2 separate regions of the Homo sapiens genome follow, and region 1 is linked to region 2. Evidence: fine-mapped expression QTL. A gene starts in region 2. The other region holds a variant in brackets. All regions are shown on one strand. Distances are between the middles of the regions. Region 1 has its middle 22 kb from the start of CTAGE6. Region 2 holds the start of TCAF2 (TRPM8 channel associated factor 2).

Region 1 (2,911 bases), 110 kb after region 2:
AAGGTTTCCAAAGAAGGAGAGCTACTTTTCAGTCAATGCTATCTCCTTATAGGCATGGCATGATTGCGTTTCTCAGGATATTATTTTCATGAACTTGTTCCTGCTGCAAGGTCTTTAGTACCATGCCTGGCTTCCATTTTGAAAAGCCTTCTTGTGCAAGATTGGTGCACTTCCCAGTTCTGGTAGGAGGACAGTTTGGTCCCGTACTCAGCTTGCAGAAGTTCCTACATTTTCTACACACAACTCTTTGTACTGATTCACTTTTCATTTGGGAAAGCCATGAGAAACTTTTTTCATAAAAAAATATAACCATCATCTCTATAAACTCTTCAAGATGATAAAGGGAGAGAGCATCATTTTGCAATGTTAAGCATAGGTTGGGAAAAATGGTGTTGAGAAAAAATTAAGATAGAAATTGTAAACTATCTCTCAAGCTGGAGATCTAGAGAACAAAGAAGTTGAGTAACAGATGGAGAGAAAAAGTCCTCACCCTGAGGAGTAACCAAGAGCTTACCTGAGGAACAGCTTCCCAGACACCACTTCAAATATCATATTACCTCATATCAAGAGGATAAACCCAAAGGCAGCCCAATGGAGCAGTTTGATAAGCCATTTCTGTTTTAAAATTCAATAAGAAAGATCCCTTTGTTTCTTTTTCCTAGGCTACCAACAAATTTATAAAATGTTCTTGAATGTATTGTCCTTTTCATCAAGAATAATCTGAAAAAAACCCAATCATCTTTATTGTGCAGTACAGATGGAAGGGGAGAATTAACAACAACAAAGCCACTGCTTTTTATTCCTAGGCCCTTAATAGCCCTAAAACAACTAACTGTCTGTATTAGTTCATTTTCACATTGCTATGAAGAAATACCCAAGACTGAGTAATTTATAAAGGAAAGACGTTTAGTTGGCTCACAATTTTGCAAGCCTGGGGCAGTCTCAGGAAACTTACAATCATCGCGAAAAGGAAAGCAAGCATGTCTTACATGGTGGCAGGTGAGTGATGAGAGAGCAAGAGAGAAACTACCAAACACTTAATAAAACATCGGATCTCTTCAGAACTCACTCACTATCACGAGAACAGCATGGGGGGGAACTGGCCCCCATGATCCAATCACCTCCAACCAGCTCTCTCCCTCAACACCTAGGTATTACAATTCAAGGTGATATTTGGGTGGGGACACAAAGCCTGGCCATATCACTCTCTGTTGCTAAAAAAGAAAAACTTAGGTGGAGATTTGGAAATTAAAGTCCAGTGTAATTGGCCCCACT[G/A]TGGAGAACCAAGCCATGCAAGGACACTCACAATGATGAAAAAAAAATTCTCAGCACTTAGGTAAGGCACTCAGTTGGAACAATGCTTTCCTGGGTCTGCAGACTGGAACCTAAGCAGCTGTGTGCTTCACTTAGATAAATACATATTCAATGCATGAGACTGATTCACCCTCACAAATGATACTTCTTTTAATAGGATCATGCAGTCTACTCCCAGCCACATAGTTTTTGTCTTAAATAACAAATCATTTGAACAGGTAGTTAAAATGAGGACCATTCAGGTTTGAATTAGTAAAGTTACATATGGGAAGATTCCGTGAATTATTGTAGCAGACGGGAGTTATAACAAAAAATATATTGTGCATTTATATAATTTCATAATCCCATTCAAGCAATGACCCTAAAAATCTATTTTCCAGACCACATTTACTCCCAAGGATATCAGTGTAAGTTAGGTGAATCATCAATAAACCGCTTCTTTTCAGAAACTGTTTTAAGTGCTTTTATATTTATTTATGCTCACAACATTCCTACAGAGTAAGTACAATTACACTCTTCATTTTGCTGAGAACTAGTAAGCTGTGAAGCCACATTTCCAACCCTAGAAGTTGGAGCCCACACTCTCAGCCAGCATACTGTCCTATGGAGTTACTGGATCTGCCATCGCCTGTAACTCTGCCTGCATTAGACTATGTGTCTGAATACTGAATCACAGAGCAAGCAGAGTCCAACTGCCAAAACCAATCAGGTTATTCCTAGTTACACAAAAAGCAGTTACTTTACAGTAAAGGTCATTCATCCAAGGAACACTTCGCTCAGGATATACAATTGATTTTTTTTCCAATACCAAGACCGTGTCCAACCTAGACTGGAGGGTTTTAAAGATTCTGCGATTCAAAATAAGAGCTTGATGGAGTCTTAGAGGAAGCAGGTCTTACACTCAAGGTTTTTATCCTTTTTAAGGATGCCCCAACTCCTCTCATTATGTCTAAAAGCATTGGATAAGGGACCACATACGTTCCCATAGGTTATTAGCTCCAATAGCTGTAAAATCTAAATTCCCAACAAACTGGAGACATTTCAAGAGGCAGAAATCACCCTAGAATACTTTAGGGAAATAATAATGGTCACTTTTAAGTTTTAAAGAAGTGGGTTTTTATTGTTGTTGTTGGTGGTGGTGGTTTTGTTTGTTTTTGAGATGGAGTCTCGCTCTGTTGCCCAGGCTGGAGTGCAGTCATGAAATCTCAACTCACTGCAATCTCTGCCTTCTGCATTCAAGTGATTCTCCTGCCTGAGCCTCCCAAATAGCTGGGTCAACAAGTGTTTGCCACCATGCCCAGCTAATTTTTGTATTTTTAGTAGATACAGGGTTTGGCCATGTTGGTCTCGAACTCCTGCCTCACATGATCCACCTAGCCTCGGCCTCCCAGAGTGCTGGGATTGCCGGCATGAGCAACAGCGACCAGCCTTAAAGATGACCCTACCTTTATTTAAAATGACCCTGCTTGTATTTCCTCCCCTGAATGCCTTAAAGTCCCTGACTTATTTGAAAACTTAGTATTTCGAAACAGTTTCAGAAAAAATTAAAGCCTTAGTGGTTGGTCACACTAAATGGGACCGTCAAAGCTCCTACTGC
Region 2 (2,911 bases):
AACTCACTAATTCGACAGATATTTTTGGACGTTCACTATATCCTTATTTATTTAGCATATATTTAGTTATTTATTAAGAAACTAAAGCCTATTCTATGTCAGAAATGAAAATAGGCAATGAGGACTCAATGGTGGGCAAAATGCAGACAGACTACTTTTTTCCCCTCATTCTAGCACAGTCATCACTTTCCTAGGTAAGACGTTCCTAAACTCCAGACTACACCAAATCCTCCTCCTGACCACACCCTTCCACCTTGATTTTCACCTTCTGACCTCTCTTGCGTAGAAATTCGAGCACCAGCCACTCTATAGCTTTAGCTTAATTTCTCCAGCCATGCACGGACGAATCTGTGTTAGTGATGCCACAGGCACGTTTCCCTCCCAGCAAGAATATAACTTGCTGGGCAGCATTTCTGTGGATACTTTGAGAGAAAAATGCCCTAGTTGAGCACCCCGCACCATGGCCATAAGCATCCACCGGGCTCGAAGTGCATGGCCCGCAGCTGACCACTAGGGGGCAGCCCTCCACGCAGAGGCTCGAGCGACGGAGGCGACGCGGCGGCTACCGGCTCTGCTGAGCCCACCCCAAGATCGGAGGGAAGGGAGCCTGATTCCACGCGGGGCCTCCCCCGTGGCATACGTTGTTGTTAGGGAACTATTCGCCCCAAATATGGTTTATTGGAGACTTAGGGTTTGCTTTTCTTATCAAGTGCGACAGCAAACTGGCTGGGTCCCCTCTCGCATCCAAGAACCCGCAGAGACCCTGAGGGAGCCGGTTTGGGGCCCCATGCAGGCCAAAGCATCCCTCCGGGAAGGCGGGGTCGCTCACCTGGTAGGCGCCCCGAGAGCCCGCAGCACGGCCCGAGGTGGGGTCCACCGATGGAACGGGAGACCACGGGCGTGGCTCAGGGAGCGGTAGCCGCGCCCCGGGCCCGCCTCAGGGTCGGCTCCGCCTCACCCCAGCCTGTGCCCCGCCTCCGGGACAGCCCAGTTTCCGAGACCTCCTAGCCTCCAAGACAGCCCCGCCGCCAGAACAGCCTCTCCTCCAGGACCGGCCAGCCTACGAGAGAGCCCCGCCTACGGTACAACCCGCCTCCGGGACCGCAGGACTCCACCTCCGAGACAGCTCAGTCCCCAGGACAGTCCCGCCTCCGAGACGGCCCCGCCTCCAGGACGGCCCCTACCTCCGAGACCGCCCCGCCTCCGGGACCGCCCCGCCCCGCCTCGCCTCCGACCCGTCCCCCGCGCGCCACTGCAGAGCCTGTCCGTCAGTCCCTAGGTATCCGCACTGCTCAGGGGTGAGTTTTCCAATCCCAGCGGGTCCTGGGGTGGGGGCGGTAGCTGAGCACCTAGGGCACTGGGGGTCGCCGCAAAGTGCTGGAGGCCCCAGACCATACCCGGCGTCAGGGGGTGTCCCTCCCTTCTTAGGTCTAGGTCTTTGGTTTCATTTCGTTTTGTTAGTCTGGTGCTATTTGCAGTTTGTCTCAAAACACGTTTCTCCCTCCTATTTGAACTTGTAAATTACGAATTTGACAAAGATGTGCATGGTGTGTGCGTGCACGAGGGCACATTTCGTTGCGGAATGCTGGGTCAGCTTTCCGGGACATATTACTCATCTGAGGTTTTTTGTCTGTTTTTGTTTATCCTGTCAAACTGGTACTGCCCCAGAAGTGAAAGACGTCGCTTGTCTTCTGGGAGGTAGCTAGCACGATCTTGAGCTCAGGCTTCCGGATCTCTCTCGGCTGCTTTTTTCCACTGGTAACTTCTGAGGCTGAGATCAGGTACCCGCATTCTCAATGCTCTGCCGAGTATTGGCTCTCTTTTGTGAATTTCTTTCCCGCGAGCAGTATTAAGAAAAAGGTGGCGGATAGGAAGGGAAGAGGGGAAGAGATGGAATTCTACAGGAAATGCAGGGCATGCTCAGAATGCCAACCTTTCCGAGCTTGGAGAGATTTAGTGGAAGAAAGTAGCAGGAAAAACGTCCAGTAATCACTGGCATGCCAGACCCTGGAGAAGCCAGGCTGAGGCGCTCTGCAAGTTTCACCTTAGAGAGAGTGGACGAAATGTAACGGTTCTTGTTAGAGTTCTTGTAGAGGACGATTGTGGATGAGAATACATCCTGGGGACTAAAACCATATTGGTTTAGTCTGGAATGATTGCCAACTAAAGGGACTGATGTTTGAGAGAGATGGTGAGAGATTAACCAAATGAGGTGGTTGACTGCATATAGAAGCAGGAGGGAGAGAGGAAGGAGGCACTTGTGGCTCAAGGGCTTGGTGTGTGTTTTAGTTTAGATTCTGCCCTAAAGCAAAGCCTTATGCAAGGGCTTACCTGCAGGTAATTTTTTGGGGGTAAGTGAGACCAAAAAGCCCAAATGAGGAAGTGGAGAGAATGAGACAAGGAAAAAAGGGAAAGCCAGGAGGAGCATGTGGCTGAGGGTCTTCCACATGGCGCTCCTTTCCTCCGGGTGCCTTCCGAGGACCTCTGATGGGCACCTCGGGAAAGCCACGGGGCACTCTTCTGTGAATCCCCGCTCTACTGGGCGAAGCTCACCCTAGTGTCAACTCACCGCTACTTCAGGGCTGCCTTGTGCACCTGCAGAGGTGAGAAGCCATCAGAGCACAGAGGAAAGTCCCTTACAGTGGGCTCGTCAGAGACGCGCAAAGGGAGGCGGCACAGGCAGCCAGGGGACTACTGCACTACTGCAATCTGCAACGCTGCCCTCGGCAACCCGGGAAACTTAAAAGGACAGCAAAGGGACAGACACTCTCGTTTATTCCGTGCTCACTGTATGTGTACCAACCCCAGACAAGGCATTTTTAGACATATTCTTTGCTTTATTTTATTTTACTTTACTTTATTTTATTTTATTTTATTTTATTTTATTTTTTGAGGCAGAGTCTTGTTCTCT

Evidence for each region.
Region 1: its variant is fine-mapped to the expression of TCAF2 in whole blood (TOPMed, PIP above 0.99).

What each region holds. Positions count from the first base shown.
Region 1 is chr7:143,734,184-143,737,094 of GRCh38, forward strand. No RefSeq gene overlaps it. Among named protein-coding and RNA genes, the nearest start is that of CTAGE6, 22 kb to the right of the region's middle. The variant G/A (reference allele first, on the strand shown) is at 1,276.
Region 2 is chr7:143,619,723-143,622,633 of GRCh38, forward strand. TCAF2 (TRPM8 channel associated factor 2) reads left to right here and starts at 1,252. Exons shown (of 8, transcript NM_001363538.2): 1 at 1,252-1,298. It also overlaps a transcript of LOC101928466 not described here. RefSeq lists a silencer at 1,157-1,316.